3 linked regions of the Homo sapiens genome follow. The protein of the gene in region 3 purifies or fractionates together with the protein of the main gene of each other region. This does not show direct contact. Each region holds a gene or a part of one and is shown on either strand. Other genes may lie near its edges. The genes, in order: PPP4R1, VPS39 and GDF3.

What was found.
Region 1: the proteins of GDF3 (region 3) and PPP4R1 purify together in Homo sapiens (affinity purification with mass spectrometry; one large-scale study listed by BioGRID and IntAct). This does not show direct contact.
Region 2: the proteins of GDF3 (region 3) and VPS39 purify together in Homo sapiens (affinity purification with mass spectrometry; one large-scale study listed by BioGRID and IntAct). This does not show direct contact.

The regions. Positions count from the first base shown.
Region 1 is NC_000018.10:9,587,019-9,590,664, forward strand, and holds part of PPP4R1 (serine/threonine-protein phosphatase 4 regulatory subunit 1), read right to left. Parts: intron 1,836-3,646; coding exon 1,693-1,835; intron 1,218-1,692; coding exon 1,071-1,217; intron 1-1,070. UniProt on the Homo sapiens protein: Regulatory subunit of serine/threonine-protein phosphatase 4. May play a role in regulation of cell division in renal glomeruli. The PPP4C-PPP4R1 PP4 complex may play a role in dephosphorylation and regulation of HDAC3.
Region 2 is NC_000015.10:42,205,386-42,209,813, reverse strand, and holds the start of VPS39 (vam6/Vps39-like protein), read left to right. Parts: upstream 1-1,509; 5' UTR 1,510-1,660; coding exon 1,661-1,733; intron 1,734-4,428. UniProt on the Homo sapiens protein: Regulator of TGF-beta/activin signaling, inhibiting SMAD3- and activating SMAD2-dependent transcription.
Region 3 is NC_000012.12:7,692,898-7,697,290, reverse strand, and holds the start of GDF3 (growth/differentiation factor 3 preproprotein), read left to right. Parts: upstream 1-1,515; 5' UTR 1,516-1,562; coding exon 1,563-1,830; intron 1,831-4,393.

The sequences.
Region 1 (3,646 bases), on a different chromosome or scaffold from region 3:
ATATATCCTGGGAAATGTACTTGCCTGACCATCCTTCCCACAAAGACCATACCTGTCAGAGCAGGAGCAAAGTATTATTTTATTTCCACTGTGCTTACACAGTGCCTAGAAAAGTGTTCAATACCTACTGAAGGGGTTCAAGTGTTTCTTCGTTCAGTCCAGGGTTTTTAAAATTTTAACTGCACTGATAAAATAACCATTTCAGTTTTCCACTTTGACATAATAATTTACAATTATGTATTTTTTCGTATTGTGTGCAGAAGGTACACTTTCCTTTGTAAGCCTTTATGTCCCTTTCTAGCCCTGATTGTATTTCAAATTTAATGATTTGTGGCAACTTTAACAGAAAGCAGCCTTTTCTTTCTTTCTTTCTTTCTTTTTTTTTTTTTGTTTTGTTTTTTTAAGACAGAGTCTTGTTCTGTCAACCTGGCTGGAATGCAGTGGAATGACCTCGGCTCACTGTAACCTCTGTCTCCCAGGTTCAAATGATTCTCGTGCCTCAGCCTCCAGAGTAGCTGGGATTACAAGCATGTGCCACCACACCTGGCTAATTTTTTTTGTATTTTTAGTAGAGATGGGGTTTTGCCATGTTGGCCAGGCTGATCTCAAACCCCTGGTCTCAAGTGATCCTCCCACCTTGGCCTCCCAAAGTGCTGGGATTACAGGCATGAGCCACTGCACCCAGCCCAGCCTAATTTTTTTTTTTTTCCTTGAGGCGGAGTCTTGCTCTGTCGCCCAGGCTGAAGTGCAGTGGCCTGATCTTGGCTCACTACAACCTCCACCTCCTCCCAGGTTCAAGTGATTCTCCTGCCTCAGCCTCCCAAGTAACAGGGACTACAGGCGCACACCACCATGCCTGGCTAATTTTTGTATTTTTTTGGCAGAGCCAGGTGTCACCATATTGCCCAGGCTGGTCTCCAACTCCTGACCTCAAGTGATCCACCCACCTCGGCCTCCCAAAGTGCTGGAATTACAGGCATGAGCCACCGTGCCTAACCCCGGCCTGACTTTTAATAAGCACCTCTTATCAGCCACATTTTGCATAAGTGGAAAAATGGCATTTGACTTACAGCCACAGCTTCTGTTTTCACATCATCATTGCTATCTGGGGCTGTCAGCTCTATGAGGACAGGGCACACTTTGGTCTCCACATCAAATCGTTCAATGAGCTCCTGCTCCAACAGAGCCAGCAAAGCTGCCTGACTTGTTTTCCTCACCTAGGAGAAAAATAACAACACAAAGAAAGTACATATGCAACATGACAAAATTCTATCACTTGATTTTTATAAACAAAGATTTCTCATCTCAAAGGGACCCATAACTGGCAAAACTCCGCAAATAAATATTTGTGTTTATTTTCTTCAACTATTACAAAGACTACAGAACTTCGTAGATTGTGCTGTAACAGAGGAAGTGGACAGAGCCATCCTGGTAAAAGATGCCTCACAAAGTAACAAACCTTTTAAGGGACCGCTAGGAGGTTACCAAGTGAGAGTGCAGTTACTAGGCATTGTCCATAATGGCATTAAAGGGATCTACTAGATTTGTCAGACTCTAAACACATCTTGTCTAAGATAAATATTCATTTTTGAAAAACAGTAAAACATTCCAAAGAGAACACTTAGGCTCGGCTATTCTCCATATATTACACTACGTAAATTTCTTTTAAGAACATATAAATGGTACTCTTACCTGATTATTCTGATCTGCAAGGTATCTAACCACAATAGGTAGTAAGAATTTTGAAAAAGCATATGGTATTGAAGGCCGGTTTTCTTGACAAAACAGTGCGATGTGAGGCACCTGTTCCATCAGCTCCGCTCTCACAGTTGGTTCTATTGAAATAACGGCAATGTGAGCAAACATGTTCTCCTGCAGCAACAAAACCTTTATCTGTTCTTGAGGGTACTTAGGAAGGCTATGGACTTTCATCTTCAAAATATAAAGGACTTGAGACAACATCCTTTAATTCTGCATTCCTTTTCAGAATCATACACAGATCAATCCCATGAGTGAAAGGAGGACCTTATCTTCAATCCAAGCTTCTGTTGTTCACAGTATGCACTGAGTATCTAACCATTTCTTAACAATAAATAAATTTATTCATCACCTACACTGTGCCACACTGTGCTAGGGGTTAAATATCCTATCTGATATTTACATCAATACTCTGACACATACATAGTATTATCCATAAATTCCACTATTTAAGAACCTACTAGGACAAGTCATAAAAACTAGTTCCTAATCTCAACTTAGTCAATAAATGAAAGATATATAATTAGACTTAACTAAGACTAAAAATGGGTAAATGAAAATTAAAGATGACAAATATTTTTTAAACACCTGAAAAGACCCAAGTGCATATGGCAAATTTAAATGTGAGAAATATGGCATTTCAAATTTCTGGGCTTCAAAAAGATGAAATGTCTAAGAAGCAACAGTAGGAAAATCAGCTAGTTAGCACGGAACAAAAGTTCCTACTGCACATCATAAAGATCAAAAGTACTAAAAGATAATATTAAATGTTCAATCTTGAGGTGGGAAGACAAAATCCAAAAATCAACCGTAAGACCAACTAATTATACATTATAAAAACTTTATTATAGGCTGGGTGTGCCTGTAATCCCAGCACTTTGAGAGGCCAAGGCGGGCAGATCACTTGAGGTCAGGAGTTCCAGACCAGCCTGGCCAACATGGTGAACCCTGTCTCTACTAAAAATACAAAAATGAGCCAGGTGTGGTGGTGCATGCCTGTAATCCCAGCTACTCCAGAGGCTGAGACAGTAGAATCACTTGAACACGGGAGGTGGAGGTTGCAGTGAGCCAAGATCGCGCCACTGCACTCCACCCTGGGCAACAGAGCAAGACTCTGTCTCAAAAACAAACAAACAAAAAAACTTTATTATAGATAACAGATACCAATACTCAGTTAAAAGGGAAAACAGCCTGGGAGCAAATTCATGTATAACAGAGTATTAGGAAGTGAACACACTGTTCAAATAAATAATAAGAAAGAAAATAAGGATACAAGTAGGCAATTCATAGAAGACATGCAAGTGACTGAAATACAGACAGACATGATGGATTATCAGTAACAAGTCATTGTATCGGACCTAACTAGAACTCTGATACCCATTATTATTATGCATTAATAAAGCTACATTAAAGTAAATATGTATGAATGTGTCTACTAGGATTTCAGATATCAACAGAGAAATTAACATACCTTTAAGTAGATAATACTGTATTTTACAAAGCTCAGAATCTTATCAACAAACCAATATCTGGAATTTCTATTATACTGTTGTACCATGTGAAGTTGGCCAGATATGAACAAAATAGAGTGTTTCTGTTTTGAAGAAAAACCTAATTTTTAAAAAAGTAAACATACAGGCCTCTGCTTTTCTCATGGATGCTGAATTTTCTAAGTTAACACTGACAATTGCTTATATTTTTGAAGCAAAAGGAGGACACAAGTTATGGTTTCAGTTAAAAATGAAATCAGCAACTTTTCTTTCTTCAAAGCCCCGCTTAGGCAAATAGACTAATGGGGCGGGGCAGGGGAATAAAGCCCAGAAACAGACGCATGCATGTACAGACAACCGATTTATTAAAAGGTGAACTGGGAAAGATGGTCTTCCCA
Region 2 (4,428 bases), on a different chromosome or scaffold from region 3:
TTTTCATGTTTTTGACTACTTGAAAGTACTTTTCACTTGATTATCAGAACAGCATTTGGTAAAGATGGGACAAGTATTCCTAATTTACATATGAAGAAACTGATATTGTGTAAAAATAAAATGACCAGGACCAGTTTTTTTGACTTCATATCACAGACTTACCCTTTTTCTTTTACATTTTTGCTTTAAACCCAAATGCTTAATTTTTTGACCTACGATGTTTTCCTAGGGGGAAATGACCAGATATAGATCATTCTTGCAGCCCAAACTTTGTTGTTTTTTAAGTCTTCAAGGGGAATACTAAGGTAACCGCAGACAGTACAGGTCCCAGGTCCTATAGGAGGAAAAGCCATGACACCTTCCTAAAGGAATATTAGGATGTAAGACACAGCTTTGGAAAGTTGAATTGGTAGGAATGTGGTCATCAAATTAAAAGGAGGCTTATTTCACTGACTTCCAAGAGTTAGTGAATCATCTCTTGCCTAAACTCTTGCTACTCAAAATGTGATCCAGGGACCAGCAACATCTGGGAGATTTTTGGTGCTCAACTGAGGGTCTTACTCTGGTCCTACTGAATCAAAAGAGGCATTTTAACAATGTCTCTAGGTGATTTGTATGCACGTTAAATTTGAAAAGCATTGGCCTCAAATGGTGGTTCTCAGGGTAATTTTGCCTCCCAGAGGACATACGGAAAAGAGACATTTTTATACCTCTGTGGGGAAGATAACTGGCATTTGGTGGGTGGAAGTTAGGGATGCTGTTAAACATCTTACATTGTACAGAACATGCCCCCTCCCCCAACAAGAAATTATCCTGTCCTAAATGCCGGTAGTGCTATCGCTGAACAACCCTAACCTAAAATGGTGGTTCTCAAGCTTTTAAGTGCATGGACTCACCTTGGGGTTTATTAAAACATAGGTTGCTGTTCCCTTCGAGTTTCAGATTCAGTAGAACTGGAATGGGCCTGAAACTTTGCATTTCTAACAAGTTCACAGGTGCTGCTGCTACTGCTGTTGTTGCTGGTCTAGAACCACTTTCAGAACCACTGGCCTAGAACAACCATGAAAGCATTAAGGTAAGGTGCTTGTACTAATTGGGATATAATGGTAATACTAAAGCTACCACTTACTGAGAGCTTAGTGGGTGTCAGGTGTTGCTAAGCGCTCACGACACTAGGTCACAGGTATTTACAAAAATTTTGCAGATTAGGAAAGTATGGCATCGAAATATTAAATTTTCTAAATCACAGCTAATTTCCTAATTGGTAGATCTCCGTCTGAGGTCGACGCCAAAGGCCGAGTTTTTAACCATCACGCCCACTGCCTAAAGCAGTTCTAAGATTAAGAGTTTGTTCCTTCTATGGTAAGCCCATGGCTACTCGGGATGGAGTAGCTATGGGTCCAGAGTGACGATGGCAACTCAGCAACAAAACAATTCATTTAGAGTGCACCGGGAGGAAGGGGCGGGACTTCGGCTGCGGAAGAGGCGGGCCTAACTAGCAGGAAGTCCGGGGTTGACGATGGCTGTGTTGTTGAAGGGCCTGTAGCCGGGGGGTTCCTGGCCGGATCCCGGTCTACCCTTAGCCCAGACTCGTTCCGGACCCCAGCCCGGCCCGGAACACTCTGGGCGAGACGGCGGTGGCAACTCTCCCCTTGCCGCCATGCACGACGCTTTCGAGCCAGTGCCGATCCTAGAAAAGCTGCCTCTGCAAATCGACTGTCTGGCTGCCTGGGGTGAGCCGAGGGGCCGCGGGGCCGAGGCGGAGTCAGCACAGGAGCGGTCCGGATCTTTTCTGAGGCCGGGGAAGTGGACAGGCGTCCATCCGTGTGGGCTTCGGTTGGATGCTACACGAGAGGGGCTTAGGATGAGAGAAGGCAGAGAGATGACCACCGGCTATAGACATCGATGTCTGTGGGGCTACTTGGGTGATCCCAGTGATCCAGTCATTTAGGGGAGTTCCCCTTGCTTTTGCTCTCTGTGCAGAGTGGGAGGATGAGCTTTCCTTTTTAGTTGTGCTCAGCTTTGGCCCATTTTGATTCCCACGAAGACTTCATTTTAGAGGGTCAAAGCAGTAAGAAGTTCTCAGCCTGCCAGGGGCTTGAAGTTGTCCAGATGTTTGTGTTGTTTTCTAGATGAAAGTCAACCCTGGTTTTGGGGGCATTGAACAAGTTAACACCATATGCTTTTTTTTCCCCTTAGTGATCATTCGTTCATTTCTCATTCCTGTAGGGAACTCATGTAGTTAGCTAACCTTTGAATCTAGCCAAGCGGTTGATTACCTTATATCCAAAGTGTCCAAGTTACCTAACTGTAGGCGGAAGAGTTTCCAGACTGTCTTGAAACCTAACCCATAAAAACTAGCATAGTCCTTTTGGGATTGACTAGTGCAGAAGGCCGGGACAGACATCTCTTGTGTGCTCTGAAATACAAATGAAGGTTTCAGGGATAACGGTGAACATTGTGCTCTTATCCGTGAGTGACTGGTTTGATACCAGCCGCCAAAGACCAAGGAAATCATTTCTAACTTTCCTCTTAATGTTTAGGTCCTAGAAATCAAGGACCATAAAAAGATGATTCAGATCCCTTAATCAGATCTTATACTGAGCTAGATAGGTAACCATGATGGGCCTTATGGAATCTTGGTGGTGTCTGATACCATGTGCGTCAGCTGTTCACAGTGTCACCGAGTCATCCTTGCAGAGTTCTTGATGACTTCTTCTGTAGGGTTCTTTCACGAAGAATTTTCATGTTAATGTGCACCCTTCCTCCTTTAGCAGCTCTGGGTCTCTTTAAAATCATACCTCCACAGTAAGCAGTTCTAGTCCTTTGGGTTAAGAGGAGAATCCTACTTCCTCCAGACATCTCAAGAAAACCAATTTCTGTCATTAAATGCTCTCATTAAACATTTAAATAGAGGAGGAGAAAAAGTTTTTAAATGAAAGACCTGACACTGCATGAAAGGATTAATTCCCCCATTGCTTCATCAGATATACTTATTAGGTGGCTACACGGGCCATTCTCTTTGCTTGGGACAGTAATACAATGATGAATAAGAAACAGTGCCTGTGCTCCTAGGACACACACTGGGGGACAAATACACGTGAACAGATTATAATACTAGAGACATATGCTGCCTATTATTGCAACATGGATGAGGGGGTACCCAACTCAGCTAAGGACATATGTTTCTGAAAGGGATTAATGCAGCTGTGGCTACACTTGACTTAGCTCGTCAGAATCCTTGACTCTGATCTCCTGTTGGACCATTAGCACATAGTGCTCCTAGACTCTCACCAACTCCACTTTGTCACAGTAAAGATTCCTTGCACCTGTGGTTTTCAGGAACACAGTTTTGAAACAATAGGTAGCTTTTGGCCTTCCTTGATCACCCACCGAACAGGAGAAATGCTCTTTGGTTCCTAAGGTGCTTAGGTACATATTAGGTTACAAGAGGCCATTAACTGCCTCCTGCTTCAAAAGTGCTTTATTTCCAGATTTGAGCAGCAGTAATTATTGCTCTTTCTAGTCATTACCCCTTTTTAACTACATTGTGCCTTTGGATGGAAAGTTCGTCCAGGAACTTCCAGAGGCAGGTCACACAGGGCCAAATAGTATTTGAGGTGTAAATGTCTTAGAGACAACATACTCTGTCTCCTGGGAAATAGAAATCAGGAGAGAACATGATGAGGATGATTTCTTTCTAAACTCCAAAGTTGTATAATCCTGCTGCCTTTTCAGCATCTTCATTTGGATGTCCAGTAGCATAGCCAAAACCGTTCTTGATTCCTCTCCCCTCAAACATGCCTGTCCTCCTGTATCTTACGTCTCAGCAAGTGGCATTTCTATTTACCTCTTTGACTAAAGCCAAAAGCTTTGGAATCGTTCTTGACTTCTTTCATTCTGTTTTACACTGTATCCCATCTATCAGCAAATCTTGTGTGTTCTACCCCTAGAATAAATCTGAAATCCAGTCATTTCTCTCTATCTTGATGATTACTACTCTTGAAGGCACCATCATCTGTCACCTGAATTACTGTAGTAGTCTTCTCATTGATCACCCTATATTTGCCAGTGTGCCATTTTCAGTTTTTTGTCTACCAGGTAGAGTGAAACTTTGAAAACCTAAATCTGATTCCATCCTCTACTCAAAACCCTCTCATGGTATCACATCACAACTAGAATAAGTTCCAAAGTTTTCACCCTGTCTGGCAACATCTGACATGATCAGGCCCTGATTTCTTCCCTGTCTTCTGTGTACTTACCTCTCACTCCTTTCTGGTACCAGTCCCACACAGCCTTCTTTGTTCCATCAATGCACAAAGCACATACCCACCTCAGGGCCTTTACATTTGCTGTTTCCTTGGCCTGGCACTCACTTGCCTTTGTATATATGGTTCATTCCTCATTTCACTCAGTTCTCTGCTGAAA
Region 3 (4,393 bases):
TGATCCTCAAGGTGTGAGTTGTCTGAAAAGGAAGGAGGCAAACACAGTAAAATGCACTGCAGAAACTGTAATGGAGGGCCGGGTGCAGTGGCTCACACCTATAATCCCAACACTTTGGGAGGCCGAGGTGGGTGGATTACCTGAGGTCAGGAGTTTGAGACCAGCCTGACCGACATGGAGAAACCCCGTCTCTACTAAAAATACAAAAGTAGCCGGGCATGGTAGCGCATGCCTGTAATCCCAGCTACTAGGGAGGCTGAGGCAGGAGAATTGCTTGAACCTGGGAGGCAGAGGTTGTGGTGAGCTGAGATCGTGCCATTGCACTGCAGCCAGGGCAACAAGAGCGAAACTCCGTCTCAAAAAAAACAAAAAAACAAAAAAACTGTAATGGATGCCCAAGTATGGCTCAGTGGGAGAAAGAAGTATCTCAATCTATTTTGGTGAGTCGAAACTGTGGAAGTAGAGGTGACCTTTGAACTTGGTCTGTGTAAAGGCTCTGAGATGAAATGAGCTCACAGAGCTACAAATAGGTCAATGTAATTAGAGCATCCACACTAAGGATGGTGGGTGGTGAGAAACAAGGCTGGCGGCTGGGTGTAGTGGCTCATGCCTACAATCCCAGCACTTTGGGAGGCCGAGGTGGGAAGACTGCTTGAGACCAGGAGTTCAAGACCAGTCTGGACAACATGGCAAGGCCCCATCTCTGTAAAAAATAAAACAATTAGCTGGAAGTGGTGCCCTATGCCTGTAGTCTCAACTACTCCAGAGGCTGAGGTGGGATGATCTCTTGAGCTCAGGGGGTCGAGGCTTGCAGTGAGCCAAGATCAGGCCACTGCACTCCAGCCTGGGCAACAGAGCGAGACCCTGTCTCAAAAATAAATAAATACATAAATAAAAATAAAAATAAAAATAAAATAATGAAATCTACTTGAGTATTTGTCTAATCCAGGGGTGTCCAATCTTTTGGCTTCCCTGGGTCACATTGGAAGAAGAAGAATTGTTTTGGGCCACACGTAAAATATACTAACACTAATGATAGCTGATGAGCTTAAAAAAATCACAAGAAAGTTTCATAATGTTTTACGGAAGTTTATGAATCTGTGTGGGGCTGCATTCAAAGCCATCGTGAGCCTCATGTGACCCTCCGGCCGCAGGTTGGACAAGCTTGGTCTATGTAGATGATTAATTACAAGTCTATGAATTATTCACTGCTCTATTCCTAGCACCTATCTCAGCACCGTGCACATAATAGATGCTTAGTAACTGTTTGTTAAATGAATAAATGCATGTCTCCTTTTCACTCTGTCTACTGCTGACAACCTCACATTGTTGTAGAATTTATGTCCATGCATTGGTAATCTTTGTTCTGTGAACTTTTTCCTGGAAGAGTAGAGCAAGAGAAGAGAAAAAAAAATTCCCTCTTCACATCCAATGGCCTTTGAGGAGCTGGGAAGAGAGCAATTCACACTTGATTATCTTACATCAGATAAATTAGCAGCCTCTGAATTGTTGGGCAGTCTGGCAGTGGAGCTCTCCCCGGTCTGACAGCCACTCCAGAGGCCATGCTTCGTTTCTTGCCAGATTTGGCTTTCAGCTTCCTGTTAATTCTGGCTTTGGGCCAGGCAGTCCAATTTCAAGAATATGTCTTTCTCCAATTTCTGGGCTTAGATAAGGCGCCTTCACCCCAGAAGTTCCAACCTGTGCCTTATATCTTGAAGAAAATTTTCCAGGATCGCGAGGCAGCAGCGACCACTGGGGTCTCCCGAGACTTATGCTACGTAAAGGAGCTGGGCGTCCGCGGGAATGTACTTCGCTTTCTCCCAGACCAAGGTAAGGAAATAGAGTGTTATCCAGAAAAACATCTGGAACTGGGTGGTGTGAAGAAAGGAAAGGACAATAGGAAATGACAATTACTGATGGCCTTGTGCTGGTATTTTTCATATTTTGTCTCATTTAATTCCAGCCACGATCCTGAGAGGAAGTTAGATATTCTTATCAAGTTCCTAACAGTAAGGAAATTAGGCTCAGACAGTAGGTAACCTGTAATCTATTCAAGATCATACAGCTAGTGTGTGAGAACAAAGTCAGGATTTGAAATAGGTTTTTGTTTTCTGAATCAACTGCTTTGTGCTTCAGTTGAGATGAAAGAGGTGAGGGAGGAATCAGAGCTCAGTCTCCCACCCTGCAGCCCATATATACACATCCTGCCGTCTTCCATGTGGCAAGCAGGGTATGAAAATTTTGAGGTTGGTTTGCCCAGGAGTCCTGCTTCCCTTATTTGTACCTCCTGGCTACTCTTGTTGGGTGGCAAAGGTTATTCTAGATTTGTGAATAGAGAGCAATAATATATACAACTGTCATATCCTTTTAAAAGGATCTCAGTGAGTGGGATCCAGTACTTTCCCAAACTGACCACCCACCAAATAACTTAGGTCTTCCATTAACAGTAGATCCTCCAACCCCATTCCTGCCCCTAGTTCTCCCCACCCAATTCTTATTCAAAGTCTGAAATGGGTGTTGAGAATCTGCATGTCTATACAACCTCCCGGGTGTTTCAGATGCAGAATTTAGAGCCTTGGTTAGTTTTACAGCAACTGGAGAGAAGATTTGAATATTTATTTGTCCAAGAAGCACTTATTGGATACCTATGGTGAGCCAGGAACTGTGTATGGCCTTGAGAATACAAGATAAAGTTTGCCTTTTTTTTTTTTTTTTTTTTTTGAGAGTCTCGCTCTGTCCCCCAGGCTGGAGTAGAGTGGCACTTTCTCAGCTCACTGCAACCTCCGCTTCCTGGGTTCAAGTGATTCTTCTGCCTCAGCTTCCCAAGTAGCTGGGATTACAGGCGTGTGTCACCAAGCCCAGCTAATTTTTTAATTTTTTAATTTTTTAGTAGAGACAGGGTTTCACTATATGTTGGCCAGGCTGGTCTTGAACTCCTGACTTCAGGTGATCCGCCTGCCTCAGCCTCCCAAACTGCTGGGATTACAGGCCTGAGCCACCGCACCCAGCCCAGAATTACCTTTTAAAAATGCGTATTGAGTCGTACTGCTCCTCCACGTAAAATTCTCGTCTGCAAAATTCTGCAAGAGTTGACCCACCATGCCCTGCCTGTTCTGACCCTGCTGCTTACTTCCCCAGTCTCACCTTTTACACCCTCTCCTTGCACACTCAACTCCAAGCTCATAGTAGTCTATTCCTTCTAGAGCATGCACTCTTGTCTCATCCTCACACGTGCTGTATCCAGGCTGCCTGAAGTACTCCCTCAGAATTTGCCTGGTCAAGTACTTCAGGCTTTTCTTCTTCTTCCTCTTGTTCTTCCTCTTTTTGTTTTTTCCCCTTGAGACAGGTCTTGCTGTGTCACCCAGGCTGGACTGCAGTGGCACAATCTCGGCTCACTGCAGCCTCCACCTCCTGGGCTCAAGCGATCTTCCCACCTCAGCCTGCCGAGTAGAGTAGTTGGAACTACAGGCTACAGGTGCACGCAACCACGCCAGGCTGATTTTTGTACTTTTTTATAGAGATGAGGTCTCACCATGAGGCTGGTCTCTAACTTCTGAGCTCAGGCAATGGCCTGCCTTGACCTCCCAAAGTGCTGGGATTATAGGCATGAGCCACCATGCCCAGCCAAATTTTGTTAGGTTTTGAATGATGCTTGAGAATGAAGAGGTGTGGTGGTGGGGTGCTTAAGAGTGTTTCGGTTTGAGTTGTAATTTCTCCCTAAGCTGAATGACCTCAGAAAATACCTACTTAAGGCTGGGCGTGGTGGCTCACACCTGTAATCCCAGCACTTTGGGAGGCCGAGGCAGGCAGATCACGAGGCCAGGAGTTCGAGACCAGCCTAGCCAACATGGTAAGGCCCTCCCCCCACTCCCCTGACCCCCGTCTCTACTAAAAATACCAAAAAAAAAAAAAAAAAAAATTAGCCAGGTGTGGTGGCGGGCGCCTGTAATTCCAGCTACTCTGGAGGCTGAGGCAGGAAAATCGATTGAACACCCGGGAGGCAGAGGTTGCTGTGAGCCAAGATCGCACCACTGCACTCCAGCCTGGGTGACAGAGCAAGACTCCATCTCGGGGAAAGAAAAAGAGAGAAAATACCTACTCAAGCGTGAAGTCATTCTACCAAACAAAATGATGGCATTAGAGGCCAAATGAGTTATTTGTGAAAAGGGAGAAATTGAAGATGCAAATAGTAAAAGTAGACTGTATTGGGCCTTTTCCTAGAGGAATAGGTAAAATTTGAAAATTCAGGCAGGAAAGTTAGCTTAGAAAACAGGGAGAGCACATTTGTAACTTCAGAAGAGGGGCATCCATGGACAAAAATCGAAGAATCACATTGTACTTCAATATGAGGAGAGGCTGGGCACAGTGGCTCGTGACTGTAATCCCAGCACTT